Linked DNA regions of Homo sapiens. The protein of the gene in region 1 interacts with the protein of each later gene in a pairwise test. Each region holds a gene or a part of one and is shown on either strand. Other genes may lie near its edges. The genes, in order: CHRDL2, SLIT1 and FAH.

Region 1 (10,194 bases):
AAAAAAAAAACCTCTAATAGCTTTTCATTGGACCTAAAGTAAAATTCAAATTCCCCGCTGAGGGCTCTGCTTCTGTCTTATTCTCCAATTTCTTTTCTTTTCTTTCTTTTTTTTTTTTTTTTTTTGGAGATGGAGTCATGCTGTCACCAGGCTACCAGGCTGGAGTGCAGCGGTGCAATCTTGGCTCACTGCAACCTCCGCCTCCCAGGTTCAAGCGATGCTCCTGCCTCAGCCTCCCAAGTAGCTGGGACTACAGGCACCTGCTGCCACGCCCAGCTAATTTTTATATTTTTAGTAGAGATGGGGTTTCACCATGTTGGCCAGGATGATCTCCATCTCTTGATCTCATGATCTGCCCTCTTTGGCCTCCCAAAGTGCTGGGATTACAGGCATGAGCCACCACGCCTGGCCTTATTCTCCAATTTCATTTCATACCTGCTCACTCTGCTGCAGCCACACTGACCTCTGTCGGTTTTTCCAACACTTGAACCTCATTCCAACTTGTTTCCTCCACTTGGAATGTTCTTCCCTCAGATCTTCTCACGAACAGTTCCTTCTCATCTCCCAGTTCATAACACAAATGTTTCCTCCTTATAAAGCCTTCCCTGACAGCTGTTTCTAACAGTCTACCCCTATTAATGAAATAATATTCCTCTATTTATTTATTTATTATTTATTTATTTATTTTGAGACAGAGTCTCGCTCTGTCACCCAGGCTGTAGTGCAGTGGCACGATCTCGGCTCACTGCAAACTCTGCCTCCCAAGTTCAAGTGATTCTCGTGCGTCAGCCTCCCGAGTAGCTGGGATTATAGGCATGCACCACCACGCCCGGCTAATTTTTGTATTTTTAGTAGAAACGGGTTTTACCATGTTGTCCAGGCTGGTCTCAAACACCTGACCTCAAACAATCTGCCCGCCTTGGCATCCCAAAGTGCTGGGATTACAGGTGTGAGCCACCACGCCAGGCCCTCTATTTTATTATATATCATAAATTTAACATCTGAAATCTTCTTGTTCCTACTTGCTTACTTTTTTTTTTCTTTTTCTTTTTTCTTTTTTTTTGAGTTGGAGTCTCGCTCTGTCGCCCAGGCTGGAGTGCCATGTCGTAATCTCGGCTCACTGTAACCTCTGCCTCCCAGGTTCAAGCAATACTTCTGCCTCAGCCTCCCAAGTAGCTGGGATTACAGGCACACCACTACTGCCCGGCTAATTTTTGTATTTTTAGTAGAGACGGGGTTTTGCCATGTTGGCCAGGCTGGTCTCAAACTCCTGACCTCAAGTGATCCTCCCACCTCGGCCTCCCAAAGTGCTGGGATTACAGGCGTGAGCCACTGTGCGTGGTCCTTGCTTACTTCTTTAATAGTCTATCTTTCACTGTTAGGATGTGAGCTCCGGGAGGGCAGAAACCTTGTTGGTCCCACTAATTCCTAGTGCTCAGAAGAAGGCCTGGCACCCAGTAGACCTGCAGCAAGTATTGAGCGTGAATGAGTCCACGTCTACCCACCAGAGGCAGCTCAGCATCGTGGAAAGTACACGGGCCCTGGTGACAGTTTTTACATGCTTTGTGATCTCAGGCAACTTAACCTTTCAAGGCTCTTTTCTCATTTAGAAAGTGTGACTAATAGTATAGTATCTACCTCTAGGGGTGTTGAGAAGACGAAGTGGGATGATTTTTATATAACGTAAAGGCCCTACCTCAGTAGCCACTCAATAAATGGAGGCTATGACTTTCCTGAGAAGTTCCCTGTGACTGCAAAGGGCTTTTCCAGGTGCCTCACCTGCCCTTTCACCGCTAACCTGTCTCCATCCTGTTTCCTGCTTCGTGGTGCTAATAATCATCGCCATCCTTGGCTCCTTCGAGGCCAGAATCAAGAGACCGATTCTAACTCTTCAGGCCACACAGTCCCTTGCACTCCATCCTAGTTTCTCATCTGGGAACCTCAGATGTCTAGTGTCTGGTTTATCCTCTAGACATTTATTAAGCACCCATGTGCGTTGGGCCTCTAGAAGGCCCCTATTAGAGCTCAGACCAATTCTGTGGACTCTGGGATTCCCCTTAACACTGACTAGTTCTCGCGATTACCTCTGGCCATCTTGGGAAGCAGTGACCCCAGAAGGCGTAGGGCCAGTCAAGGGTCTTCCATGGGGCAAGAGGCTGCCTCTGGGAGAAGTGCTATCAGGGAACTCAGGTCCAGGGAGAGGGCAGGAGGAAGGAACCAGGGGGAGAAGCGGGGCTAGAAACAAACTTCGCCAACTTCAGAATTGTGAACAAAGCGGGCTTCCTTCATCTAGGAGAGGACCATCAACCCCTCCTTTCCTTACTCTCATTTATTCACTCACTCATGCATCCATTCAGACTCCAGCAGCCACTAACTTGGAGCAAGGCCCCATTCTTTGGAATTCGTGGTTGAATCGGTGACACAGGTGTAAATGGTTCATCACAATGCAGCAGAGTGACCCTTGTAACAGAGTGAAGAACAAGGTGCGGGAAGGCTGAGGGGCCAAAAAAAAAACTGCCTGGAGAGCTGGGAAGACCCCCACGAGGGGTGGTGGCCACTCTGCCTCGGTTTCTGCTTGTCTCTCTCTGCGTATGTTCGCCTGCCCAATTCTCTCGCTTGCTATGCTTAAAAAAGAGAAGGAACTTCAGGCCCCTCCTTCTCTGGTGCCAACTCCAAAGGCTTTGTCCAGGATTACCCAAACCTCCCAGAGATTTAGGGGGTGGATCATAAAGCCATCCGTCTTCTCCACATGAGGTTTTCAGTCTCACACCCCCTCCCAGTCACCTGTCCTCATGTTTCATTCCTTTCTTGACCACAAGGCTCAGGCCCAGAGTTAAAAGGACCAAGCCCTAGAGTTAAAATAGTGCAGTCAAAGCATCAAGATCAATGTCAAACAACTCTAGGCTTACATGTCTTTCTCTGGGAAGGGGACAGTGTTTAAGCAAGTCCATGACCAGAACTGACCTCCTTCAGGGTAGGGGAGGCACATGGATATGTGGGCCAAGTGAGATCCCCTTGGTGGGCAGGAATGGGGAGGAACCGGGCACACTTAATTGTTTTCAGTCCAATCACAGGCTTACGACAAGTTCAGACTTCTGCAGTTGGGGTGGGAGTTTTGGGAAAGGACAGGTACAGGTGGAAGACGATGGTTCTTTGAACCAGGGCTGACCCTTGTGTCCCCTTCAGGGCGCCCATGTGAGTTGTTACCGCCTCCACTGTCCGCCTGTCCACTGCCCCCAGCCTGTGACGGAGCCACAGCAATGCTGTCCCAAGTGTGTGGGTAAGTAGCCATGCTCCTCCCCATCGTCCATGGACCTTTCTCCTACTCCCAGTGTAGCCCTCTAGCTGAGGGAGACCCCTGCAAGGAGAGGGGCAGTCTCTACCCATCAGAGGTGTAGACACACAAAGGTGCTCAAGGGAGGAAATATCCCAGATCCCCAGGCAGTGCTGGGGTAGCAGAGACTTCATGTCCTTAAGTAGGTGTGCATGGCAGGGGAGGGAGGACATGCAGAAAGGAGCTGCAGGAAACAGGGCCTTGCTTGGGCTGCTGACTGGCACACTTAGGCTCCAGTCTCCCTTGGGCCTTCCAGAGCTGGAGGGTGTGGGCGCAGTCTGGGAAGTGAAGGTGAGTGATCTTGGGCTTGAAGGTCCTAAGGGGAGACCCCAGAATTACCACTGGGGGAGCTCAGAAGGACTAAAGGAGTCAGGCCCTGTTCTCTGAGATTCCTCCCACTGCTGAGATTCAGGGACTCTATGTGTCCTGATGCTAAATGTCTATGATTCCATGATTTTAAGATTCTAAGAGCCTCTGAGAATAAGATTCTAGGAAGAAGAAGTCAGAGAAAGGAGAGGTGGTCTAGGAAGAAACTGGCAAAACCAAGTGTCCAGTGAGGGGCAGCCAGAGGGGAGGCCAACTTGGAGGTGGGAGGGGAGGTTGAGAGGAAAATTGATGTTTAGAAGCATCAAGAAAGTGGTGAAGAAGAGGCTCCAGATTTTGGCCTCGGGTCGGGGCTCTGGAATCAGGACTTTCCTGGTGAGCTGGTATGGAGTGGGGCTCATTTTCCAGGGGGGAGCCCAGTAGGGATCTGACTCGTGGCCCCTACATGGGTCATAGAGATTCCTGGCTGTGGGTCCCCGGGGGGACAGTGGCTCTCAGCTTCATCCTGCACAGTGAGGGAGTGTCCTCATGTCTGATGCCGACTCTGGGGGGCCTCACCTCTCCTTGCTGACTTTGGGATTTTCCCCTGTGCTTGGCCCAGGCCTCTTGTTGCTAAAACACTCTTCACTCCCTCTCTCTTCCCATCCCCTGCCCCTGTGCCTGCTTGGCTCCACAGTTCTTCAAGACTCTGCTCACCGTTGCCATGCCATCGGCCCTTCAGGAAGCCTTCCCTGGCCATTCCTCCCCGGCTGAGTTAGAGGCTCCTCCTCTCTGCTGTCACAACTTCTGTGCTTCCATCCACCCTAGCCCTCACCTGCTACAGCATCATTGCTTGTGGCTTGTCTTTCTGCCTAATTAGATTTCAAACTTCTTTTTTAAAAATTAAAAAAAAAGTTCTGGCCAGTCACGGTGGCTTGTATCTGTAATCCCAGCACTTTGGGAGGCCGAGGCGGGCGGATCACAAGGTCAAGAGATTGAGACCATCCTGGCCAACATGGTGAAACGCCATCTCTACTAAAAATACAAAAAAATTAGCTGGATATGGTGGCATGTGCCTGCAGTCCCAGCTACTCAGGAGGCTGAGGCAGGAGAATTGCTTGAAGCTGGGAGGTGGAGGTTGCAGTGAGCTGAGATCGTGCCACTGCACTCCAGCCTGGTGACAGAGCAGGACCCTCTCTCAAAAAAAAAAGAAAAAAAGGAAAAAAAATTTAAAAAATGTTGCCCAGGCCAGTCTCGAACTCCTAGAGTCAAGTGATCCTCCCACCTCAGCCTCCCAAAGTGCTGGGATTATAGGCGTGAGCCACCTCACCCGTAATTTTTGAGTCTGAGTTTCTTGGTGGCAAGGGCTAAATCTTACTCATTGCTCCATTCCCAATGCCTAGCATGGTGCGTAGAACAGAGGAGTGCTTAGTCAAGGGGTCTTGAATGAATGAGTGGGCTCTCTCAGGACCAGAGGCTTACCCCTCCACCTGGCAGGATGAGGACGGACTGATGGGCAGGTGATGGGGAGGGGGGCTCTGGGGGCCAGTGAATGACAGGAGTTTACCCAAGCACAGGGACAATCATGCCAGCTGGCACCACTAGAATGTAACCCTGTGAGGGCAGGGACTCTTTTGCTCACTGCTGTATCCCCAGCACCTAGAACAGTGCCTGGCACTGAGAAGTGCTCCATGAACCCTCATTAAATGCTGGATGAACTAACTCGGGCCCCACTGAGCGGAAGCTGAGGCTGCCGGCTTTACCTTCTTGCTCTGGTTGGGGCTGGCCCAGACACTGAGGGGGCTGGAGGGCTGTGGTAGAGGTCATGGGAGGGAGGGACTCAGTCAGATGTAGGTATCAGAGGGACCTCTTAGTTAGCTGATAAGGGGAATGGCTGGCAAGGCCCAGGCCAGAGCTTGGTTTAAATATCAAGCTGGGGTCAAATGCAAAATCATCAGAAAAGTGGCCTTGTTAATTTCAGCAAAGATTCACATGAAACCTCATTTTCTTCTTCCTCCTGCCCCTCCCCCACTGCAGAACCTCACACTCCCTCTGGACTCCGGGCCCCACCAAAGTCCTGCCAGCACAACGGGACCATGTACCAACACGGAGAGATCTTCAGTGCCCATGAGCTGTTCCCCTCCCGCCTGCCCAACCAGTGTGTCCTCTGCAGCTGCACAGTAAGAACTCCTGCCTTCCCTTCAGCACAGGCCAGCGCTCTGGGCCTGCAAAGAACATAGTAGCCTGGACTGCGGACTGGGGGGATTGTTCCTCCTGGCCAAAGCAAAATGAATGGGCTCAGGGGAAAGGGAATATCTGGGGTTTGGAATGTCCTGTCCCTAGCTGGGTCAGGTGACCATTCTCTGAGCTTCCACACCTTCCTGAGCCTTCTGTTTCCCCCAGTAGACGCTGCATTCCTTGAGGGGAGGAAACATATGTTTTTCATTTCTTTATCCTCTGCTGTCAGTCCAGGGCCTAAAGCACAAAAGACATCTGTAATGATTATTGAATGAGAGAATGAATACGCAAATGATCAGTTATCAGTCCTGGGGGACAGAGACAGGGCCAGATTATCTGTAGCAAATGGAAATTAATCTGAAGCTACTTAAACTCCTCCTGCCTATTGTTAGAGCTGGACCTCCGGGCAGGCAGGGCTGACTCGGCAGTGTTATCATGGGACAGAGACTGAAGCTAAGCAGGGCCTCCTCTGGAAAGTCTTCAGCCTCCTCCTTGTAAGGGAACTGGGGTGTAGGCATGGCCTTCCTATAGGTTTGCAGGTGGCTTTCCGCGTGTCATTTTTTTTTTTTTTTTTTGAGACGGAGTCTTGCTCTTTCACCCAGGCCGGAGTGTAGTGGCGTGATCTCGGCTCACTGCAAGCTCCGCCTCCCGGGTTCATGCCATTCTCCTGCCTCAGACTCCCGAGTAGCTGGGACTACAGGCGCCCACCACCACGCCCAGCTAATTTTTTGTATTTTTAGTAGAGTCGGGGTTTCACCGTGTTAGCCAGGATGGTCTCGATCTCCTGACCTCGTGATCTGCCCGCCTCGGCCTCCCAAAGTGCTGGGATTACAGGCGTGAGCCACCGCGCCCAGCCCAGCATGTCATTTTTAACCCTGGGCTTGGCAACTCATCCGTGAATTGGCAGGAGAAGTCCCTGCCCTCCCGATTTATTTACTACCTGATCACCACACTTGGGCCTCAGTTCCTCTGAGTGCGTAAGGGAGTCTGACCAAGTGATCATTAATGTTCTCTCCAGACTAGTATCAGAAACCTGTGTTTGATCTCCAGCACTGTCCCAGTTCCCTGTGTGACCTCAAACAAGTCACTTCTTTTGGGCCTGCCTCCCTATCTTTTCAGTGACAGGGTCCCATCAGTCTGAGTCTTTGAATCTTAAAGTTTCTGTGCTGCAGAGCAAACAGCCTGCAAATAATGAGGAGTGACTACTTATAAATCAACCTAGTAAGCAATTACCTTTTGCAGGGTGTGAGCCTTTTGCAGTGGTCTAGTCTGTTGTGTCACCAGGTTCATAGAAATGCCTGGTTTATAGACAGTACCCGAATGACCCTAGGAGAAGGATATCACTATTTCTGTTTTCCAGATGAGGAAACGGGCTCAGAATAGTTAAGTGACTTGCCTGAGATCACACAGCTAGTAAGTGACAGAGCCAGAATTCAGACCCAAGGCCACCTGGCTCCAAAGCCAATGTTCTTTTCCCTGTGTCCTGCTGCCTCCCCTGAAGGGATGAGGCCTGGATGAGGAGGGGGCTGTGGCGAGAGACAGAAATGCTGGGTGGTGGGTGGTGAGAGCATTCCCAGGATTCCTCTGTTCATTCTCCCTGGGTACTTGGGCCTCCCCTTCTTCCTTCTCATCCCTGATTATATGAGGCTGGCTTTTCTTCTGGCCTCACCCGAGGGACCGGAACACTCACTTCTCAGACCCTCTGGAAAGGGAACAGGGAAAGGTCTCAGGGCAATAGTGCTTCCCCCCAGGCACGTTGTGCCTTGTGCTTTTCACAGCCATTCCCTCACTGGATCTTCACACCCCAAATGGGTGTGACCCCACTTCACAGAGGAGGAATCTCAGGCCCAGAGGAAAGAAGTGACCACCAATGGTCACCTGGCCCCTGACCCCCAGAAGGCCCCTTCCCCTGCAGTCTTGCCTTTCAAGGCTGGATCCCAAAGTTGGAAACCAAGGGCTTTCAGTAAAGAGCAAGATGAGCCCAGGTATCACCCACCTGTCCCCCTCCCATGATGTTGATTTCAGTGGGAAAAGCTTGAAGACTGGGCCCCAACTGTCTTTCTAACCTGAGATGGCTCAGGCCCCGCTCCGGCTCCTCATTTGTAGGATAGGGAGATTCCCGCCTTACCAGGCAGCAGCTAGGGACAGCCTGGCTGTGAGTGAGTCAGAAGCTGAAGGCTGGATGTTACCTGCAGGGCCTGGAAGTGGGGCTGGGAGGGCACGGGGGACCCCTCCTCTGAGCTGGCCGGGCCTTGCTGTGGAGATGCTGTTGCTTCCCCTCCCCACCATAGGAGAGACCTCAAGGCCATTTGCTCCCAGGGAAGGGGGTGTTCCTAGCCCCCAAGGCTAGCCCTTATCAGAGCTCATTTCCCAGCTGGTTTGCTCTATCTGTCAGGAGGGCCAGATCTACTGCGGCCTCACAACCTGCCCCGAACCAGGCTGCCCAGCACCCCTCCCGCTGCCAGACTCCTGCTGCCAGGCCTGCAAAGGTGAGTCTGTCCCTCCATCTGGCAGCACTCACCCACCCCTCCACTCCATGGGCCTAGCCATGGACTGTGAGAGCCGTGAGGAACTGCAGGTGACACCCAGCATGTAGCAGACGGCTCTTTCCTCCAGGGTGTGGCTTAGCCTGCACCCCCCAGAAAGCAGAGCCTGGCAGAAGCTGATGTGTTACTTATTTTTATTGCAGTCATTGGGGGAGGAAAGAGGGAAAGGCAGAGTGAAGAAGGTAAAGAGAGAGAAGCAATACAGGAATATGTCCAGGGGCTGGCCTCTGCTTGCTAACCAAGCAAAAGTGACCTATTGCTCTAAGTAGTCTCTGCTTCTCAGAAAAGTCTGGGCGTGGTAGAGGAAGCAGTAAGAATGTGTCCACCAGCCACCAACTATCTCTCCATTGAGCCCAAAGCTCATCCATGTGTGGGACTTCCCTGCTGTGCATGCATGGGTGGGTGCTAAGTAGCCCTGGGAGCAGAGGCAGGAGTGGGCTGGGGTAAGGAGTGGGCGCAGGGGATGTGGACAGGAGCTGCGGGCTTGAGGGAGGGGCACTGTGAGGCTGAGCCTGAGGGAAGTGTTGGGGAGCCCGTGCAGGGGGGCTGCTGCTGCAGTGCCTGCCATGGGGGGACAAAGTCCCTGCAAGCAGATGAGCTGAGAGAACCATAAGTGGCACGTGAGAGGGGTCTAGTACAGGTAAGGACTACGTCTCATCCTGCCTTCCTGACGGCAGAGCTGGTCACAGTATTGGGCTCACCAGGGCTCAGAACATGTCTTTTATACAGAACCCAGGTAGAACCTCTTATAAAGCAGGGAGGCAACACATCAGCTAGCAAAGGGCAGGCTAAGCGTGAGCAGAATGAAATGGTCGGACTGTTCCCTGCAGGCTGAGGTAGTCAAGGAAAGCCTCCTGGAGGAGGTGGCACTCAGGTAGGGGAGTGCTCCACAGTGGATGCATCCCCAGATGTTTGCATTTTGGAAGGAGCACTGGACTAGGAATCAGGTGACTCCAGTTTAGTCCTGGTTCTTCCAGCTAACTCCATAAATTCCTTCCCTTCTCTGGGCCTCAGTTGTGCCCTGTGATTTCTAACACAGTCTAATTCCAATGTTCTGGGTCTTTGAAACGGGAATGATTGGTGGGAATCAGACTGTGGAGTGAGGCAAGAGATAGGGAGAGAGAGGCCCACTCGGGTTTAGGAAGCTGCAGGGCTCCAAACGGCTTTGTGTGCTGGTTTCCCAGGGGAATAGGGACTGGCAGGGTGCTCAGGCTGGAGGGGCGAAGGGGCTGGAGTGTAGGGTCCTGGGAGTGTAAACCAAGGCCTGCTGACTTCAAGTGTGGCTGCCCAGGAAACTGCATCTATGCAGGCTGCAGGGATGGGATTCTGGGCCTTTGGGCCATCCATGGTAAATACTGAAAGGTATGGCCCAGTGTCCCAGAGAGGTGAGTTTCAGTAAGGACCAAACAAGATGCTCTGTTTCAAGGACTTCAGTCCTAATGGTTACCAGGAGGTCAGTACAGGGAAACTGAGGCAGCAACCCAGTTGTAGGGGACTTCATCAACCCAACCAGGATGAAGAGAGGCTGTAATGGGAAGTGGAAGAAGTCCCCACTGGGGCAAAGGAGCTGGCTAGTGGGCTGGGGCTGCAGATGGGACAGCAGGCCTTGGGAATGGACAGAGCCTATAGGTGGAGGCCTCAGGGCTCTAGCCAGCAAGGCTGGGGAGCCTGAGGCTGACCCAGCTTCCCTTTGAGTTTTCAGATGAGGCAAGTGAGCAATCGGATGAAGAGGACAGTGTGCAGTCGCTCCATGGGGTGGTGAGTGCACGGCCT
Region 2 (10,825 bases), on another chromosome or scaffold:
GGGGGACTACGTAGTAGGAAAATATGATCCATAATGAAGAAGAAAAGTAATCAATCATTTCAAACCCAGAAGTGATACATATAATAGAATTGGTAATGTAGTTATTACAACTATATTCCATATGTACACTAAGGTAGAGGAAAATATAAGCATGTTAAGAAGATACGTGGAAGATTAAAAAAAAAAACCGAAGTAGATTTTCTAGAGATGAAAAGTACAATGTCTGAGATAAAAATTGTACCAGATGGAGCCGGTACGGTGACTCAGGCCTGTAAGCCCAGCTCTTTGGGAGGCTGAGGTGGGCAGATCTCTTGAGATCAGGGGTTCCAGACCAGCCTGGCTAACATGGTGAAACCCGATCTCTACTAAAAATACAAACATTAGCTAGGCACGATGGCACACGCCTGTAGTCCCAGCTACTTGGGAGGCTGAGGCAGGAGAATCGCTTGAACCCGGGAGGCGGAGGTTGCTGTGAGCTGAGATTGTGCCACTGCACTCCAGCCTGGGTGACAGTGAGACTCCATTTCAAAAAAAAAAAAAAAATTACCAGATGGGATTAACAGCAGATTAGATACTGTAGAAGAAAAGATAATGAACACGACAATACACCAGGAGAAACTCACCAAAACGAAAGAGAGAGAGAAACAAGGCTAAAAAAAGGAACAGGGCATCATCCATCCATGGACTATGAGACAACTCCAAATGGCCTAATTATGTATAAATGGGGCCCCCAAAAATGAAGAAAGAGAGGAGGGAACAAAAAAAAGTGAAGAAATAATGGTTGAAAACTTTAAATTTGATGAAAACTGTGAACAAGATACAGGAAACCCAGTGAACCCAAAGCACAGATCTCTTCTATTTCCAGTGCGTGGCTCTCAGCTGGCATGCAATCAATGTCTGATGAATAGATGAATGGTTGCTGTCAGTGCAGGCTGTCTGCCTGCTTTCTGCCTTTCTTTTCCTCCTCTTCTCCCACCCCAGCACCCACTTTGCTTCTCTCTTGCTTCCAGTGCTTCTATTTACCAGAGTTATCTTGGATGCCTATGATGGCCTCTGGGCTATAAACGCCACTTGACCTTTAGTCTAGGAGCTTGTCCTTGCTGTAGGCTTTGCCACTGAGAGCCTCCAACAATTCAGCCTCCTCCAAATTTGACAATAGCCAGGGGTTTAGAGACTAAAGCTAAGATATCATGAGTCCTGCTGGCACAGACTTCCCAGAGACTCCTGTTTTCGTAGTTCCCCTGTGGTGGCAGGGCCAGGAGGAGTGCCCAGGATGGACTGGATGCTGTGTTCTGCCCGGGTGTGTGGCCTCATTCACGGCCCACCTCTGCAGCTCCTTTGCCTTGTGAGGTCAGGCTGGTTGCTTCATTTCTCTGGGCTTCTAACTGTTTACTGGTGCTTGGATTTGATCATTTTTTAATCCCCTTCCAGCTCTGACATCTTGTACTCCCCTGCCACTCTCCCTTGACCATCTTTCTCTTTCACATGCCTCATCCTTGCTAATGGTGTGTGGAACCTGGAGATGAGGAAGGCAGGTGGGCCTCAGATCCATTGTCCCTGCCAGGCTCCTTCCTTCAATGGCTCCCCAGAGTTTTCAGTCTAATTCCAAACTCATAACTCAGCACACCAGGCCTTGATTCTTAGAGCATGGTCTCTGGAATCACCTGCATCAGAATTAGCACCGCCTCTACCCCCCATTCCCAGCTTGCTAACACTGAAGGTTCTGACTGGGAAGATCGGGGGTGGGTCACAGGAATCAGCATGTATGATAAGCACCCCAGGGGGGTTAAAATGTATTGGTAGGGGGAAATTAGCTCCTACCACACAGGGTAAAAAATCCGAACAAAGGCTGGGTGTGGTGGCTTACGCCTGTAATCCCAGCACTTTGGGAGGCTGAGGCGAGAGGATCGCTTGAGCCCCGGAGTTGGAGGCTGCAGTGAGCTATGATTGTGCCACTGTACTCCAGCCTGGGCAACACAGCATGATTCTATCTCAAAAAACAAGCAAAAAACCTCCCAAACAGTAGAAAAGAAACATCTGCTGCAACTTTCTCCTTGCTACCTCCCAAGTCACCTCCCTGGAAGCACCAGGTTCCAGAGACACTGGTTCCAGAGGTGGTGCATTTCCAAGCCCATGCATATATAGACATGTGTTTGAGGACAGGGCCAGGCCAGGTGATGCTGAAAGCCCAGTGAAGCCAGAGAAAGGCTGCACCAGGGCCTCTGGGGTGTGTCCTCATTACCTCTGTAACCTCCATCTGTGCTCCCCACCTGAACCCCCTGCCACAATCCAGCCTTGCTGGACGTGCCCCAGCTCAGCCATTGAGAATGCTGCCCCCAGTCTGTGTGACTTGCCTCAAGTGCTTCTCTTTGCTGAGAGAGCCTTTTTTCCTGTTTTGTTGCCCAGAGAATGCCTATTTATCCTTCAAGACCTAGTTCAAGTGCCTCCTCTTCCAGGGAGCCTTCCAGCCCCACTCTGTGCCCTCATTCTGGGTTCTCTGCAATTCCACATTCGCTGACACCCAAATGAATATGCTTTCCTGCTTCCTGTTTCTGTGCCCCCACCGGACAGTGAGCCCACTGAGGGCCAGGGCCATTCTTGTCCCCTGTTGAATTGCTGAGTTCCAGTACAGCACATGTAGTACACAGATACTCCGTAAGTGGTGTTTATCAGATGTCTACTTAGAAGGCATTCTGTCTCACTTTTCCTTTTTGCAGTTTGGAAATCCATCCCACAATGCTCCTCAGCCTCACCCAGGTTCTCCCGCTTCTTGGTGCTCCAAAAGGGGCTGGTGGCGGTGGGAGAGAGGACTCTGTGCAGAAGCCATAAAGAGAACGCTCTCTTCTTGAGTCACACGGGGGAAGTGGCCCTCAACTCCCAGCACATGTGGCTGAGAGGACTCAGAGGGGACTCACGTCACTGGGCTGGGGAGACTCAACCTCAAATTTCCCTTCCAGGGGGTTGCCCTGCTGGTGGCAGGTGAGCAGGGACAGGCTTGGTGGAGTATTCCTGGCAGAAGCAATGTGCCAGGCCTGCCTCCTCCCCACCCGTGCAGCGGGAGCAGGTGGCCCGGCTGCAGGGAGGGGGTAGGGAGACCCAAGAGAGGGAGGGGCATGGGAGAGGAAATTGAAAAAACAGAGTGGGGCTTGGGGGTGTGCGGCCAGCCAGGCAGTTGTTTAACAAGTAAATGTGCCGGGCACGCTAATGAGCTGCGCTCATTCATGGCGAGCCGCCTCCTGAATTGGGGAGCTGGCCAGGTTCTGGGGTGGAGGAACCAGGGACAGGAGCCAAGCTGGGGAGCTGCCCGCTGCTTGGGCAGGGCCCCCTGTGATGGGCTGCTGGGGGAGTCTTTGTCCTGGGTCTGGGGGGCTCCTTCCTTCCCTCCCTTCAGAGGAAAAGCCAGGCTTTGCCAGGCAGCAGCAACTCAGCCCAGGGCCTGCTTGGGATTCACTGTCCAGGCTGGTCTGGAAGCTTCTAGGGCAGGGGCTGGTTCTCAGGAGCCATAGGCAGGGCTGATCTTGCACCCCTGCTCACTCCCACCCTTCCTCATACCCCTTCACTCTGTCACTCTGAGGACCTAGGGGCATGTCGCCTGGCTAATCAACACTCTCTCCCTTCTCCACATGGGTCTTGGCTTCCAAGGGGCCCTCCGAGGTCCTGGGACCAGGGAGCTACTGCTGGAGCAGAAGGCTGGAGACATCTTCAACAGCCTGAGTGCTGTCTGTGACAGGCCTACTAAGTGCCAGGTGCTGGGGTGTGTGTCTGGGTGAGCGAGTGAGGATGCCAGGGGGTGGGCAGGGGTGTGGAGAAGCAGCTGCAGGTACTAAGAGGGGATAAACAAAGCAGCGGGCATGGAGGAATGTCACTCTGAGGCTGCGGGGAGAGCATGGATAGAGGGGCTGGGGCCCCATGGAGCAGGAGCTGGTGAGCTGCAGGGCAGGGGCAGCCCTCTCAGACTCCGGCCTGGTTTGTGGGAAGCTTCCCTAATATCCCACCACACAGGCACCCCTGAGAAAGCCCTGCCCCCTGAGAAACTGAACTTATGCTCAAGAACCCACTTACCGGATGGAGGTCATGGACAGGGATGTGTGAAAACTTTAAAAGAACTGTCAAAAGCCCATAAAATCAGCCACCTAAATTGTAACATACTGTGCTATGACAGTAGAGAGACTGCAAAATTCTCATCAACATGGAAAAGAAAAGCAAAGAAAACGCCTGAGCCTTGGGTACCTGGTGGGTGATAAGGCTTCAACCTTGTGGAGTCTATCAACCTCCCCTATCCCCACCCTGCCCGACACTCTCCCCACCAAATGCGTCCATGCTGTGTCTGGACCCAGGCCGCTCCTGAGACGGGAGGTGCTTCTCGGGCTACCCAGCTGTGTCCTCTTGCCAAGCAGCCTCACGTCAAGGCCCCGACTGCTGGACACTGCCCCAGCGAGCCACAGCTGTCCTTGGCGTTGAGGAGATCTTTCGTCTTTTCTGGGGTTGAGGAGAATTCTCTCCCCACCTGGATGTCCCGTTCACACCCACGTCCACACATGCCTTACGGTGACGAAGGTCCCTACCCAGCCGGGTGTGAGGCCTGGGTCTGACGGGGCTGGCCTGTGGGGTTCTCTCCCAAGCAGGCCGCCCAGCGCTATGCCAGCCCTCTCTGTCTCCTTTGATGTCAAGATGGAATATTCATTTTCATCTGTTTCCACCTGTCAGAAATGGAGGAACGCTGGTGTGAGTGGAGGAAGACGTTTGCCAGATTTCCAAGTCCCCTTAATGTCTGTCCCTCTCTTCTACAACGGGGGAAGAAGCCCGTGTAACTGTATGGTACAAATACGCCCTGCTGAGCAAGTGTTCCAATCAGAGCCATTCTCATCCTGGGCATGCGGCTAGCTTGTTCCCCTCTGAGAAGTGGGTGCATTGAGGTAGGAAGGAGACTGTACTCCGCCTAGCGCTTTCGTGGACCCTCCCCCCCGACAAAGCTCCATCCTCAAAGTCCAGGCTAAGTAAGGTTGGTGGCTTGAGGATGCTACCTGGGGCACAGGCACAGGGTTTCCCTTAACCAAGAATTGACACAGCGAGTCGGGTGGGGCCGAGAGGCCGCTGCTGCCGTCGGGGGATGGGGGGAAACGGGTCTGACTCCCCGGGAAGGCGTCCAAGCGGCAAAATAAGATCTCCCTCCCACCCTGGACTAGCAGCTGGGGCCGCGGGTGCCGGGGTGCGTGCGTCTAAATGTGCGCATCCTCGCCGTGTGTGTGTGTGTGTGTGTGTGTGTGTGTGTGTGTGTGTGTGTACAGCCAGGACTTGGCGGGTCGAGTCACACCCCCTTCCCTCTTCTCCCATCCCCCGCAGCCCCGTGCCCGCTGACGGCGCCTCGGAGGTTCCACCTTTGAAACTGTAGGCGGCTTGCAGCCGCTGAGTGGTCGTCGGGAGAGGGGGGCTGCGGCGGGGGAGGGCGGGGAGGAGCCTGGCCCTGGATGTGTGCTTTTCGATTGATGGATGACTGCCGGGTGGGAGCGAGCGCGCGGGTGTGTGTGTGATCGTGTGTGTGTGTGTGGTGTGTGCGCAGGGTGCGTGCGCGCGCGGGGCCTGCCCATTTTCCTCCTCGCAGCAGTCAGTTGGGAGCTGGAGGGAGGGAGAGGGAGACGCAGGCGGCGAAACGGCAGAGGAGCCGAGCCCCCTCCGCCCAAGGCGCCCTCCCTCCGTCCGCGCACAGGCGCCGTCGCTTGGAGGAGCAAGGTGCCTCCCAGCCCGCAGGGGCGCCGCGCGCAAGCCCGCGGGCTCTTCGGTGGCTCTGCCCCGGGACTGCACCTGGAGGCGGCCCCGGACGGGGATGGTCAGCGGCTGCTGCCGTCTGGCTCGCGAGCGGGACGCTGTGAGGGCACCATGGCGCTGACTCCCGGGTGGGGGTCCTCGGCGGGGCCGGTCCGGCCGGAGCTCTGGCTGCTGCTGTGGGCAGCCGCGTGGCGCCTGGGTGCCTCGGCGTGCCCCGCCCTCTGCACCTGCACCGGAACCACGGTGGACTGCCACGGCACGGGGCTGCAGGCCATTCCCAAGAATATACCTCGGAACACCGAGCGCCTGTGAGTATGGTCCCCGCCCCTGGCTCCCTGGCTCCGAGGTTGCCCTCCCACCCAGACGCAATTCCGGACTTGGGGGTGGGGGCAGGACCATTGGGGCCCGTCCGGGCTCCGCAGCCCACAGACGGGTCAGTGCCTGCCGGGGTCTTTCCCGAGCCAGGAGCCAGGAGCGCCGTGGTTTCCCCATCCCTGGGATTCAAAGGGCCCTCGGCGGGGTTGTCAGCTTCCGTCCTCACACCTGCACCCTGCACCCTGCACTCCGCACCCTCAGGCCCTCCTCACTGCGCCAGCGCTTTATTCCTCCAGGGTGCCTGCGAACTGGTGTCAGAAAGCCTTCCTTGCACCCAGGAGGGACACTTCCCACACTCGCCAAGCACAATGTCTCCTTTTGGGCACATGGGGCTACGGCCGCGTTCTGAGCCAGCTGCGCAGATTCCCGCTCCCAGAGCTTGCTCCTGACGAAGGGCAGCAGGGTGGGATGGAGGCGAAGTTTCTGGTCTGCCCCTTCTTCTCCATTGTTTGCCCCAGAGCCTTGAGAATTCTTCCCCTGCAGGTGCCACGCGTTGGTCCCCTACTCACCCGCCTCCCTCCACACCCAGCCATCCCCAACACAGGCAGACAATGGGACCTGAGGGCTTTGGGTATGGGGCTTGGGGTATGTAACATTCAGCACCCGAAAAGGGGCAGGTGTGTCTTGGATGGAGAACCCGGTGGATAATGCCAAGAAGTCAGGAGCTTGGAGAGGGGGGCCCAAGGTTAAAGATATTGACCATGACAAGTAATAAAAAAATAGCATTTCTCTTCCCCTGTTCTGTCTCACTTGTGAATTCTTGAGGAAACTTGATCCTTTTCTTTTCTAGACCCAGTAAGCTAGTAGAATGTGTGTGTGTGTGTTTGGGTGTGTTTGAGTGTGTGTATTTACAGACCTTTATACTTTGTTTTCTGTGACTCTCCTGCAGAATGTGTTTCTGTGTGAATTCCTAGTATTAAGGGGCCACCTTAATAGCGTGAGGCCATGAGAGTCCCCGTAATGGGCTGTGTGTGTGTAGATTTTGGTCACATGCAGGGCCTTTGTACTGCTCGCAGAGGTGACTACACCAGGAGATTTTTGAACAGGGCTTTGGAGAAGGCTGCTGGCTCCTTTGAAACCTACCTACTCCTCCTTCCCACACTCCTCGGTGACTGCAGTGGCTCTCAGGAAAGGTGTGCATATTTTGATAACTTTCGAGCACATTTTCATGGCCCCCAGCTGGTCAGAGACAGAAATCTGACCCTGAGGAGAGCTGTCTCCCGAATCAGACTCTGTACCAAGGCCAGCAATTAGTGAGCACACATTTGCCCCAGACTCTTCTTGGCTGCATCTGAAAAATTCCCGTGGAGGTTTTAGAGAATTTGCAATCTAGATGCAATCTAGATGGGAAGTGTGTGTGTGTGTGTGTGTGTGTGTGTGTGTGTGTGTGTGGTGCATGTGTATGTGTGTGTGTGAATGCTTGTGTGTTACAGGGCTGGGGAGAGGTGGTACCAAACTGAGTTTCTGTGGGCAGCGTGTGCATTATCCTGTGTGGACCCAGAGAGGATCTGAGGGTCAGAAATCTGTCCAGAGGACCCCCGCAGTGGCCTGGTCACCCTCCATGCCTGTCCCCTCTGTACCTGCTCCCTGCTCCCCTTGCCTTGTCCACTGGAGTTTCTCCTGAAGCTGCTACCCTGGTTGCAGCCTAGATCTAAGACACATTAGCCCTTCTTCTTTGCTTTTGAATCTTGAGTCTTAAAGTCATCTCCTCCCTCTTTACTCTCTCACCACCTTTAGTGTTTAAGACTTCCATGAACTCTTTAGCTCTTTTGTGATCAGAGTGAGATGAAAATGAAATTTCCTAGTACAGAGGAAAGAGGTGGCATTCTGGGAGCTATACTGCCTGGTTCCCCAGCTCTGTCACCTATTAGCTGTGTGACCTTGGGCAAGTTACTTAACTTCTCTGAACCTTAGTTGCTTTCCATCAGGAAAATGGGGCTGAGGCTACATAAGGTCTCTGGTTCTTGTGAGGATGGAAGATCATGTATGGGAATTGCCTGGTACCTTCTGATGCTCGCTAAACGAGAGCCATTATTATGATAGGATAGGGAGGGGAATCTCATTATTTTAATTCAGCAAATGTTTCGGAGCCAGGAACTGCCCTGGGTGCTGAGGCGTCAGCAGGGAGTGAGCCCATCCCTGTCCTCAAGGGGCACATGGTCTAGAGAACTGGGCAGAGGACCTCTAATGGTGAGCTCTCAGGAGAGGGCCAGGCAGCCTCAGGGAACGGACTGTGGGAACACTGGGGTGAGAAGCCCTTTTCCAGGGTGAAGGGGTTTCTCAGAGGATGGGCCACTTTATCAAGGTTGGTTTGGATTTTGCCAAGCACAGAGGGCAGGCAATCTAGGCAGAGGGAACAGCTGGGCTCCAGGCCCAGCACATTCTGCTGCTTGTCAGGTCATGGGGCCTGCTTTCTTGCAGACGTCTTTTTTTTTTTTTCCTTTTTTGTAGAGATGAGGATCTGGCTATATTGCCCAGGCTGGTCTCAAACTTCTGGGCTCAAGCAATCCTCCTGCCTCCGCCTCCCAAAGTGTTGGGATTACAGGCGTGAGCATAAGCAAAAAGCCAGCAGGTGTGAGTATGAGCCAAAAACCTGCGGGTGTAAGCATGCCTGGCCCGATATGGGCAGATGGACCAGCTTGTCCCTGGGGCTGAAACATGCTCTGGCCAGTGGCCAGTGGGTGGGATGGGACTTGAGGCTGGAAAGAGATGTTGGGAAGGGTCAGGAAGACTTTCTATATGTGAACTTTTCCTCTGGGAACTTCCTAGTTGGAAGCCAGGGGTGAGTTATCCTGGGGAAGTGGAGCAGGTCTGATCTTTGCCATGTGGGCAAAGCTTCCTGGACTGGGAAAGCGCAGGGAGCCCGCCTGTTCTCCAGGCAGCCCGTGAAAGAGCTGCTCAAAGAGGAAAAGAACATCTTGAAAGAGGCCTTGGTGAGAGCCCAGGCAGACTCAAAATAACTGTGGCAAATGCTCTCTCTAATCAATATGAGTGTTGTGCAGTATCAGAGCCTGAAACAGTGGCTTCTTCTGAGGCTGTGAAATTTTTATGGACTGCAGCTGTGCATTTGCCTTTTGTCCTTTGGGCAGTTTCTGCGGCAGCCTGCGAGGCCCAGCAACTTTATGATCATATATTCTATAACTCTGGGTCCAGGCCTGTCCCCCGAAATGGAAAGAAATGGTCATTGGTTTGCTGTGGGGACTTCTGGAAAGAGGTTGGGTAGGCCCCAGAGCTGCTGAGGAAATTGGTTCAGCCAGAGGGGCTGTGGGGCTGGTCAGCTGGGCAGGGAAGGGATGCTAAATAATTCACTGTAATGAACAGTTAAAATACAGAGCCAGGGCTGGGAGAGGTGGCGGAGGCGGCCCGGGAAGCTTCCTTTCTTTGTACTGCCCAGGCGCAGAGAGACCCAGCCATGGTCACCATTAAGTTATTTTTTTCTTCCACAACGACCTTGACTTTCAGTTGGACTTGGTTTTTAATTTAAAAAATCTTTTGAGTGTCCAGGAGAGTGTGACAGGAGAGTGCAGTATGTGTGGACATCGCTGGTTCCCCCAGCCCTGGGCATCCTGGGTATTTGAGGTTTGTGGAAGGTTCCCCTTGTGCAGAGAGGGTAAGTTGTCCGAGGATGGAGGGAGGCAGGCAGGGCCTCTGGGAAGGCCTACTGTTCTCTCTTTGCCTCCAGGCCCAGCACATTCTGCTGCTTGTCTGGTCTTTTTTTTTCCTTTTTTGTAGAGATGGGGATCTAGCTATGTTGCCCAGGCTGGTCTCAAGCTTCTGGGCTCAAGCAATCCTCCTGCCTCAGTCTCCCAAAGTGCTGGGATTACAGGCATGAGCCACCATGCCCAGCCTTGCCGTCCTCCTTATGTGCCCTTCCCTCCTTGCCAGTTCGTCCACCCTGCCCTATCTCCATGCCTGCTGTAGAGGCCTGGGAGGCCCTCTCTAGACTCAACTCCCTGAGCTAGAGGTCCCATTTAACAGGGCTGAGTGGTCACGCATAAGGAAGGCTGCCCAGGGCACCTGAGGCTGATCCTCTGGGGAGCCTGTTTGAAATTCCAAATAATAATTGGATGGTGACCTTGGTAAATGAGGTCAGGGGCCACTGCAGCCACATCTGCCATCAGGGCCCGATTGGATCTGAGCAGGCCACCATGGTCTCCTGCAGCAGAGGCCTGCGCTGTGTAGGGGAGGTGCCTCCCTGCAGGGCAAGAGTCTCCTGCTTGCTTAGGCTTTGGTGTGGTCACTGGCCCACTGGCTTATTGCTGGGCTCTGAATGACTGGTGTTAGGACCCCCGTGCCGTGCCTCTCCCTGCTCTGAGACCCAGTTTCCCCATCTGTAAAACGGGACGACGACAGCTGTGCAGGTTGATAGTGAGGAGTAAGTGAGGCAGCGTGCCACGCTTGGTAAGTGGCTGGTGTTCGCCCTTCTCTCGGCCTCTGGGGCTGATAACACCTACTACCTCAAAGGGCCTGTGCACTCACTCATGCTACAGTTGTGAAAATGCTTTGTGATTCAATCATTAGGATATTATTGTTATTATTTGGGAAGCTCAAGCTAGAGGCTCGAGGGTTTGGGTGGGGCAGAAGAGAGCTCGGGAGGTAAGGATTTGAGTGTTGCCTCTCTTGCAGTCTGTCTGCTTAGAGCGCAGTCTGTCTGTTTAGAGCGCTCATTTACCTTTCCTGGGCA
Region 3 (10,353 bases), on another chromosome or scaffold:
AAGAAATCCTGTCATTTATGACAACATGGATGAAGCTGGAAGACATTATATTAAATGAAATAAGCCAGATGCAGAACAACAAATACTGCATGATCTCACTTACATGTGGAATCCCAGAAAAAGTTGAAGTCAGAAGTAGAATAGAATGATGGTTACCAGGGGGTAAGGGCTGGGAGGTTGGGGAGATATTGGTTAAAGCCCACAAAATTTCAGATAGGAGGAATAAGTTCAAGAGATCTATTGGAAAATATGCTGACTATAATTAATAACCGTATTTTTTTTTTTTTTAGTCCAACTGAGTCTTGCTCTGTTGCCCAGGCTGGAGTGCGGTGGCGCAATCTCAGCTCACTGCAACCTCCACCTCCCGGGTTCAAGTGATTCTCCTGCCTCAGCCTCCCGAGTAGCTGGGACTACAGGCACGTGCCACCACACCCAGCTAATCTTTGTATTTTTAGTAGAGAGGGGGTTTCACCGTGTTAGCAAGGATGGTCTCGATCTCCTGACTTTGTGATCCACCCGCCTTGGCCTCCCAAAGTGCTGGGATTACAGGCGTGAGCCACCACGCCTGGCCTTATTATATTCTTGAAAATTGCCAAGAGAGTAGATTTCAAATGTTCTCAGGACAAAAAAAATGAAAAGTGAGGTAATGTTTATGTTAAGTAGCTCAACTTAGCCATTGTGCAATGTGTACCTATTTCAGAATGACATGTTTTACATGATAAATATGTATAATTTTTATTTGTCAGCTAAAAAAGTAAAAAAGAATTCTCCAGGTGTTGTCCCAGACAGCCGCTGAGATGTGGAACACATCTGACAACAACAATCAGAATCCTGGTGAGGAGGGAGGGCAGGACAGAATGCTCTCACACAGGATGTTCTTAGACAGAGTCAATCTACTTCTCATGTTGCATGTTATACTTTTATGTACATTAGTGATGGGGAGGTAAGGAAGAGGAAAACAGGATTGCTGACATTTATTGAGAACTTTCTGTGTGTCCCACAATATGCTGAGAGTTTTTGCAGGGGTTTTCTTATTTGATCTTCTAAACAACCTTACAAGGCAGGTATCGTTTTTATTATTTCATTTTTCCAATGCATGAAATTAAGATTTGGTGAGGTACAGTAACCTAAACCCAAACTCAATATGAACGTTCTAGAAAGAGATTTCAAATCTTTCTTATTTGAAACCTTAACATATATATTCTTACAGCTGGGTGCAGGGGCTCACGCCTGTAATCCCAGCAACTTGGGAGGCTGAGGTGGGCAGATCACGAGGTCAGGAGTTCAAGACGAGCCTGACCAACATGGTGAAACCCCATCTCTACCAAAAATACAAAAATTAGCCAGGTGTGGTGGTGTGAGCCTGTAATCCCAGCTAGTTGGGAGGCTGAGGCAGGAGAATCACTTGAACCTGGGAGGTGGAGGTTGCCGTGAACCGAGATCGTGCTACTGCACTCCAGCCTGGGCAACAGAGCGAGACTTTGTCTCAAAACAAAACAAAACAAAACAAAACAAAACATAACAAAAAACAAACCAACAACAACAACAACAGACATATATATTCTGTTACCACATACTGTTTCCTTTTGTTCAACATCTAGGGAAAGGGCCACAAGGAAAAATCATGCCTAACCAACTTTAGTGTGTGTGTGTGTGTGTGTGTGTGTGTGTGTGTGTGTGTGACAGAGAGAGAGAGAGAGAGAGAGAAAGAGAGAGCGAAAGAGAGACAGGGAAATTTTAGTGTGGATTTATTGTTGACAAACTAAACAATGTTTGCAGAGAGAGGCACTGAGAATGATCTATTCAGCTGTGCCAAACAGGTTGAATACAGAGGTTGTAACTTATGTGTCAACATTCCTCTGTATTTCTGGGAGCAGAGTGGGATCCACAGCTATAGCTCAAAAAGGCACCGAACATTTGGATGGGAAAAAAGGGATAATTCAGATGGGAAAACTATTGAATATGTATTTAGTTATAAGAAAACAAAACAAAATTAGAAGTATTTTGTTGAAATAACAGTGAGGGAGAGTCTAAAAAGTGGCTCCTGCTTTGATAATGGTAACAGAGAACTCATTATATGGTACACATTATTAAGTCAGATGGCAATGACATGTTCTTTATTTAAGGTGCTGCTTGTTATTTGTGAGTCTTGCAAATCCAGCTTAAATCCAAAATGGATTTGAGGTAGTATTCCATCAGAACATAGACACAATAGTACCTGAAACAGACTAAAGACAGAATTAAAGAGGGCAGGAAGAAGAAAATTTATATTGCAGAAAACCTAGCCCTGGTTGAGCTGGTTCACCTAGGACTTCATCCAATCCCCTTCTCCCCACCCTACAACATGCACTTGCACTTGAATTACTTACGTTCAGTTCCAAGATCCTCTAAATTTTGAACTCCTTTGAGAGGACAGAATGTCATGTATATTTGCACATGACATATATTCTTGATACTAAAATGTACTGGACACATGCCAAACCCATGATGCCCACTACAAAATGTGTACCATAAACATCACTGAGCTCAGACCTGAAAAAGAGAGGACACTTACTTTGCTAAAGTGCTTGGCCTTTGACATAGTTTCCTCTTTTTCTTGACGACCATGCAGCAGTGCTGAATGTTGCAAAAAAGGCCACCCCATCCTGCTTCCCAGTGCAGGCAGCGTCCACACCTTGCTTATCTGAATGGCAACTGCCAGCTTCTCAGAGCCGTTGCAAGACATTAGTGTCCTGGATCTGGAAAGTTCTCTCTCAGCTCTCTTGTAAAGGAGTGAGGGACATGCTTTGTGTGAATGAGGGCTGCAGTGCAGTGTGTTGCTTTTTAGCATCAGAGGGAGGCATTAAATATGGTGCTACAGAGACCCAAACCAGCCTTCATTGCTGGAGATGCTGAAACTCACTGCGAGTCCTGAAAGTGTTCATACTCTTTGAGTCAGGAATCTTCCTTAGATAATTGTCAAGGAAAAGGAAAACATTCTGTGCATGCACCTCTTCATTGAACCGTTATTATTACCATCTAAAACATTGCGACTTCCTTAGCTAATGACAATGATCATAATAAAGCCTATTGGGCCTCAAGGAAAAATATTCAAGAGAATAAGGTAGGGAAAGACTGAAAAATTGCATCTATGTAAAGTTTATAAGGATGGAAAAGCCATGTGCATACAAATGGAATGAAAAAAAAACATGAAAATGAGAAGACTACATTGGTGGGATTATGGGCAATCTCTTTGTTTTAAAATTCTTTTTAAATAATTGTTGTGATATACGTGGCCAACACATTCTCTTCCAAAAAATGAGAAAGAAAAAATATAGTATACTTGCAAGTTATTTCAAATGCTGTTTTCCAAATAGAGAACAGCTTTGGCGTTTTCAGACACTGTGTATAATTAGTGGGTTGGTTAAGTCTATTTTAAAACTATGAAATCTTACTCCCTCTTTAGCCATCTCATCCCCACACCCTTTCCTACACATACATCTGCCCCATGTCCTTTCCCTAAAATACTTTGGTTTTCTTTCTCCAAGGGTTTTATCATTTAGGCTTTTGTTAACTTGTATGTATTCAGTAGAAGCTCCTGGCCTAGCATCCCCCACACAACACATGCTCCATAAAAACAGGAATTAAAGATGTGAGTTGCTGGTGTATCCCCATGGCCTGGCATAGGGCATGGGCTTATTAGTTATTGCTTCATTTCCTTTTGGTCAACAGTTTTATATTAATGACATGTATTTATGGAGAACCTATTCTGTGCCAGGTGTTTTGCTGGGTATTGACAGAGTTGCACATGGAATAAGAAAGCTCGTGGTTTTAATGGGAAGGGGCAGGGCAACTACAGAACGTGGAAATAATTCATTGCGTTGCAGCTGAGGACTAGCTTGAATTAGGCAGGTATCAAGTGCTCCCTGGAATGCCTCTTTATAAGGCCACCAAGTTGGGATACTCTCCTCTTCTTTTCCTCTTTCAGGAACCTACCAGAACAAATCAGACCACCTTCATTCCCTCCCCAGGGCTGACTTAAAAGAACTGAAGCCAGTCCTTGGCAGAGCCACTCAGGGCAGGAGATGAGAGCCAAGAGGCTGTGCCCAGATTACACTCCTTACTGGGTGATGATCACTGGTCACGCCTGGTGGACAGGCACCAGAGTGATCTCAGGGGCTAGGAAGGGGGGCTCAACAGCGGGCCCTGCTTGCCGTACTCGCTCCTCTCAAGCCGTCTGGTTTCAAGCCCACTTAGCTCACATTATCCTGCCATCTTCCAGCCTCTTCTCCCTAAGCTGAAATGCGGAGCAGCCTCCCTAACTCAGCAGTCACTGTGTCACATTCCTCAAGGATCTTCAGGGAACCCTTGCCCAGACTATCGTCTACTTTTCTAGATTTCAGCCGGCATCCTGGCTGTTTAAAAGTGTACCTGAATCATTCACACCAACAATAACACAACGACACACTCTCCGGTGTGTTCCAAGTGTCCTGGCTGTGGCATGGTCTCAAAAAACTGCAGCTGACTGCACATGAGTGATTAGATAACACCTTGAACCCACCCTAAGATAGTCTGCCTTTCCCTTCTTTCCTGTCTTCCTTCTTTTCTTTCTCCCTCTCTCTCTTCTCCTATTTCTCTTTTATCTTTCCTTTCCTTTATCCCCCTCCCCTCCTTTCCTCTTTTTCCCTCCCTTCTCTCTCTTTCCACACACACATAACCTGTATATGCCAGGCACTATTCTAGGTGCTTCACAAATATTAATTCATTCCATTCTTATATCAACTTTGTGAAGTAGGAACTATTATCATCAACATTATACAGAGAAGGAAGCTGAGGTAGAGAAAGTTTAAGTAACTTGTCCAAGGTTGAGCATCTTGTCAACGTCATTTTACTACTGGCATGTGAAACAGGTGAGTTATATTTTTTAGAATATTAATTCTCATTAATTGAAGCCTTCCAAACAGGCCTAACTGTCCCCTTCTCTGACATACAAGTGGAAGTGTCATAGCTGGACGGAGCATCATGGTATGAAGGCAGAAAGGACGCGACTGGGTGTTCTTCTGAAGCTCAGGGAGCAGCTCTTGGGGAGAAAGTGTTTCCAGGAAGCGGACAAGAGTTCTGTTGAGCTGAAGAGCAGGGCAGCAGCCGGGGCGAGCGAGGCTGGAGTCATGCAGGGCAGAGCCTTAAATGCTAAGCTGGGGTTTGCTCTCGGTAGGACCAGCTAGCTGCCCCGAGCGGGGGCTGGAACCAGATCTCCCCCACGTGGACTCGCGGACAGGGCGGGGATCAGGACGGGGGCGGGGCCAGGGGAGGGGCGGGGCTCGGGGAGTGAGGCAAGACTGGAGGGCCTGGGACTCTCGGGTACCCGGGCCAGGGGAGGGGCGGGGCTCAGGGAGGGAGGGAGAGACTGGATGACCTGGGGCTTGCAAGGCGGGGCGAGGGGAGGGGCGGGGCGAGGGGAGGGGCGGGGCTCAGGGAGGGAGGGTGAGACTGTGGAGGACCTGGGGCTCGCGGGGTCGGGGCAAGGGGAGGGGCGGGGCTCAGGGAGGGAGGAGAGACTGGAGGACCTGAGGCCCACGGGGGCGGGGCCAGGGGCGGGGCGGGGCTCTGGAAGGGCGGGCGAGACTGTGGAGGACCTGGAGCTGGCGGGGGTCAGGGTAGGGGGGAGGGGCAGGGCTCGGGGTTCGGGGGCGGGGTGTTCACGGTGAGACCAAAAGTCAGGTAGGAGCCTCCGGGGTCCCTGCTGTGTCACCCGGACAGGCCGTGGGGGCGGGCAGGGGGGCGGGGCCGGGCCTGACCACAGCGGCCGAGTTCAGTCCTGCTCTCCGCACGCCACCTTAGGCCCGCAGCCGTGCCGGGTGCTCTTCAGCATGTCCTTCATCCCGGTGGCCGAGGATTCCGACTTCCCCATCCACAACCTGCCCTACGGCGTCTTCTCGACCAGAGGCGACGTGAGCAGTGGGGCTTTGGCGTCCGGGCGCGGGGAGGGAGTGGAGTGGAGTGGAGTGGAGTGGAGTGGAGTGGAGTGGAATGGAGTGGAATGAGGGGCGGGATGGAGGCTTGTGCCATTTTTCTCTTAAGATTCGTTCCGTGAGAGTGCCTATGGGCTCGAGTCCCGCCTCGTAACTTTCTAGCTGTGCACGTTGTTTAACTTTTCAGCCTCATTGTCCGCAGGTTTGCTGAGAATTAAATGCAAAATGAAATGAATCGTGTCACTCTCCCAGACAAGCAGAGCAAGCAGGATTCTGTTACCGGAAGCTGCAGCACACAGGCATGCTGCCTACTCCGAGGTGGTTGCGGTGTGTTTCTCTCGCCCAAGAGGCCAGGTCAGGGCTGGTGGTTCATCTCGCTGGATAGCCCCTAACCCTAGAACCCGGGAAATGATAACCCGGTATGCGTAGCAGGTCAGAGGGGCACGCGCGTTTCTTGGCTTAGAGTTGTGAGATCTAAGATGGCAAGTGTCTCTGCCTATAGCTGAAATTCTTTCAGCTCCTGGTGTGGGCTCCCTGGCATTCCCCTACTGATCAGAAGAAAGAGGGCAGGGAAACAAACTTTGACTAAGTCAGTGTAGTCTGATTGGTAGAAAGAAGTATTTGAAAACTGGGGGTTTATCAGCAAATAGATAATAAGAGGTTCCCTAGGTTGGAAAAGCAGATTCCCTTGGATTTGTTGATGATATTTTTGGCTTAGATTTCTGCTCCCAACTTTAAAGGTAAACTCCTGATTCATCTCTGTAAGCCATAGAACCCCAGAATCAGGAAATGTTTGCTAAACGAGGGGCCTGGCAGTTGGCTTCTTCTTGGAAAGTGGGGTTCCCTCCTTCCCCCATGGCTTGTCATTGGATGCAAGTGGCTGGCCTTTTGTGGGCCTGTCTGCGGTAAGTGCTTTGGTCTAGAAGAGTCAACTTGTGGTTTCACATCTGGCCGGGCTGACCAGATGTTGCAAGGATACAGAAAGTGGACACTCAATCCCCTGGAGGACACAATCTGAGGCACATTAAATCTTAACTTGTGATGGCCAACAACCTTTCTGCAGACAGAGCCCTCCCTCTGCCCTCCTCAAACACTTTGCCCTCGGCAGATGTGTCCTCCCTCACCTTTCCTGGGAGCACAAATCCATTAGACAGAAACATTTGTGAGAGGCAGGCACACCCCAGTAGGGAGCTCTGACTTGCTTTCTCAGGGGAATCGAATTAATATCCGTTAGAGTGTGGCTAGGTGTTTTCAGACACCATGTCCCGCTGTTTCAACATCAGAATGTGCAGGGCAGCCACTACAGATGTCTGGAAGAGAGAGCCCCATTCCGCTGTCCTCTGATACAGTGCTGGGGGTGGAGAGTTGGCCCTTTGGCCTTCCAGCTGAACAAGCCTCTTCTGAAGCTTTCTCTGCAGGCATTGGACATTCCAACCGTGATGGCTGCCTTGCCAGGCAAGACTAGTTGCCAAGGCAAAACCTCCCTTCCCCCATGTCAGCAGTCAGCCTTTCCTAATTTGAGTGGAATAACAATGAATCCTGCCATCACTTTATTCATTTTTTTTTATTCAGCGAATGCTTATGAACCCCAACTCTGGTCCAGATTTTGCCTGGGCTCCGAGTTGGCATCAAAGACACAGGAGACGCCTTCCTTCCATTTCTGGTTGATGGACTAGTAAGGTGTACAGGGGTGCTCTCTGTGAAGGTAGGGGTGGTGGCCTCTGAGAACGGGGTTGTAGTAGTGTGGAGCTGGTTTTGCCGGGTGCCTTGTTAAAGTCCCCGTGGTCTGGCTGTGCTGCTGCCTCCTGGCCTCTGCTTTCTCCAGCCACATTGGCTGCCTTTGAGTCTCTGAGATGTGCTAAGAGCAGCTTCCTGCCTTCAGGCCTTAGCACATGTTGTTCCTTCTGCCTGGAATACTCGTCCTTCTGCTCTCTATATGCTTGGCCCCTTCTCACTCTTTGGGACTCAGCTTAAATGTCACCTCCTAAGCACCCTCTCTGAATGAGCTCCCCGCTGCGGCCCAGCCTTGGTTATCTCTCACCACACCCTGTGTTTCCTTTTGCTTCTGGAGAGAAGGAACCACGTCACTGTTCCCAGGGCCTCAGCAGCCTTTGTGTAATGCTGGTACTGAGAAGATGCTCTCTAAATCTTTGTGGCATGAATAGCGTCTACCCTGTGTCTGTTCTTGTGGTGAGAGATTTACAGATATTAATTAAATTCTCACAATAAACCTACTGTGAAGTTATTGTCCCCATTCTACAGATGAGGAAACTGAGGTCCAGAGAGGCAAAGCATCATGCTCCAGATCTCACAGCCAGTAAGAGGCAGATATGGGGTTGATCCCCACATCTGTCAGCCTCCCAATCTGTAAGGTCCAGCCCTACGGGGCTTAGCGGGTTTTCTCCCTGTGTGCGGAAACGAGAGATTGTAAGAAATAAAGACACAAGACAAAGAGATAAAGAGAGAACAGCTGGGCCCGGGGCACTGCTACCACTGAGACACAGAGACCGGTAGTGGCCCCGAATGGCTGGGCACACTGATATTTATTGCACACAAGACAAGGGGGGCAGGGTAGGGAGGGTGAGTCATCCAAGTGATTGATAAGGTCAAGCAAGTCATGTGATCATGGGACGGGGGCTCTTCCCTCTAAGGTAGCCGAAGCAGAGAGGGAAGGCAGCATAAGTCAGCATTTTCTTCTATGCACTTATAAGAAAGATCAAAGACTTTAAGACTTTCGCTATTTCTTCTACCGCTATCTACTACAAACTTCAAAGAGGAACCAGGAGTACAGGAGGAACATGAAAGTGGACAAGGAGCGTGACCATTGAAGCACAGCACCACAGGGAGGGGTTTAGGCCTCCAGATGACTGCGGGCAGGCCTGGATAATATCCAGCCTCCTACAGGAAGCTGGTGGAGCAGAGTGTTCCCTGACTCCTCCAAGGAAAGGGAGACTCCCTTTTGCGGTCTGCTAAGTAATGGGTGCCTTCCCAGGCACTGGCGTTACCGCTTGACCAAGGAGCGCTCAAGCGGCCCTTATGCGGGTGTGACAGGGCTCACCTCTTGCCTTCTAGGTCACTTCTCAGAATGTCCCTTCAGTACCTGACCCTATACCCACCGGTTATTCCTAGGTTATATTGTACTACAATAAAGAGTAATATTAAAAACTAATGATTAATAATGTTTATACTAATAATCGATAATTGTCCATGATCATCTGTATATCTAATTTGTATTACAACTGTATAGCAGTATAGCTACAGTTTATGCCTTCAGTCTCTTGCCTCGGCACCTGGGTAATCCTTCGCCCACACCAATCCCATGCTTCCCCCTCTATGTCAGGCTGGGAGTTGGGTAATGCTTTCCTTTGGACAACTTTATATCAGATATGACCAACTATTTTAAAACAAAGGCAATGCACATTCATTCTCTTGAAGTTAGACAAATGCGGTCTCCCTCCTTAGTTTGTTTCCCTCAAGTTGCAGATGGGAAACTGAGGCCCAGAGACTTGTCCAAGGTGATAAGATGGTGAATGAGGGAGCAGACTTGGAGCCCAGGAATCCTGGATCTGACCTGTGAGCCCCCTCTAGTTTTGTGCTGAAGAAAATAACTCCCAAGGTTGAAAGTAGAGGGACTCACTCTCTCAGACTTTTTCTGGGTCCTCAGGTCATAGTTTGAAGCACAAGTTTGAAGCTTCTAGGCTTTGTTTGCATTTGAGGCAGCAGGCAGCTGCACTTGTGACCCCATTTTGGAAGTTGCTTACTGGTGGTGACTCCTTCTTGCCTTCAGCTGGGGTGTGGGGACCAGGGTCAGAGATGTGGTCCAAGGGTCTGCCCTGCACATTCCCTGAATGGAAAGCCACTTGGATTCAGGTGGTTCAGCTCTTTGCCTAAAGCAGATTTGCCATTTTCAGGAGGGGAAGACTGAGGCCCAGGGAGTTGGCAGTGGGGCTGAGAATGAGTAACTAAGCTCTCCAGGCAGCCTCTTCTAGGGTAGGCTCTGCTGGGACCTCAGATGAGGAGTATGGCTCTGGTCTACCCCGATTCCAAGAGCTGACATGCGTGGAGAAATGGTCATCTTTTCTCAGCCCACCCCAGTGAGCAGCCAATGGAGATAAGGCCAGCCAATAATCCCACCACTAAGCTCGCTGGCACTGAAATGGCCAAGCTGGTGGTTCAGGAGAGCTGGAAGCCTGGCTCAGGACAGAGCCCTGGGAAGTTGAGTCTGCAAACATGCCCTCGGGTTCTTGTTGACGAGCAAAGCTCAGGGTTGTGGGGACAAAGACCAGGACTTAACAAATATTTAAGACATCTTTGTTGATGCTGGGATTTTGTGGTACAGAAAGGAACTTGCCTTGCATGTTCTGAGCAGTCTGGCTTCCTGCAGCTCCCTTACAACCCGAGC

The links.
Region 2: the proteins of CHRDL2 (region 1) and SLIT1 interact in binary tests that used the Homo sapiens proteins (3 or more experiments, as listed by UniProt).
Region 3: the proteins of CHRDL2 (region 1) and FAH interact in binary tests that used the Homo sapiens proteins (3 or more experiments, as listed by UniProt).

Annotation. Positions count from the first base shown.
Region 1 is NC_000011.10:74,706,472-74,716,665, reverse strand, and holds part of CHRDL2 (chordin-like protein 2 isoform 2 precursor), read left to right. Parts: intron 1-3,186; coding exon 3,187-3,280; intron 3,281-5,298; exon of another isoform or gene 5,299-5,580; coding exon of another isoform or gene 5,581-5,674; coding exon 5,675-5,817; intron 5,818-8,270; coding exon 8,271-8,364; intron 8,365-10,123; coding exon 10,124-10,179; intron 10,180-10,194. UniProt on the Homo sapiens protein: May inhibit BMPs activity by blocking their interaction with their receptors. Has a negative regulator effect on the cartilage formation/regeneration from immature mesenchymal cells, by preventing or reducing the rate of matrix accumulation.
Region 2 is NC_000010.11:97,180,727-97,191,551, reverse strand, and holds the start of SLIT1 (slit homolog 1 protein precursor), read left to right. Parts: upstream 1-5,592; 5' UTR 5,593-5,877; coding exon 5,878-6,074; intron 6,075-10,825. UniProt on the Homo sapiens protein: Thought to act as molecular guidance cue in cellular migration, and function appears to be mediated by interaction with roundabout homolog receptors.
Region 3 is NC_000015.10:80,147,206-80,157,558, forward strand, and holds the start of FAH (fumarylacetoacetase), read left to right. Parts: upstream 1-5,793; 5' UTR 5,794-5,849; coding exon 5,850-5,930; intron 5,931-10,353.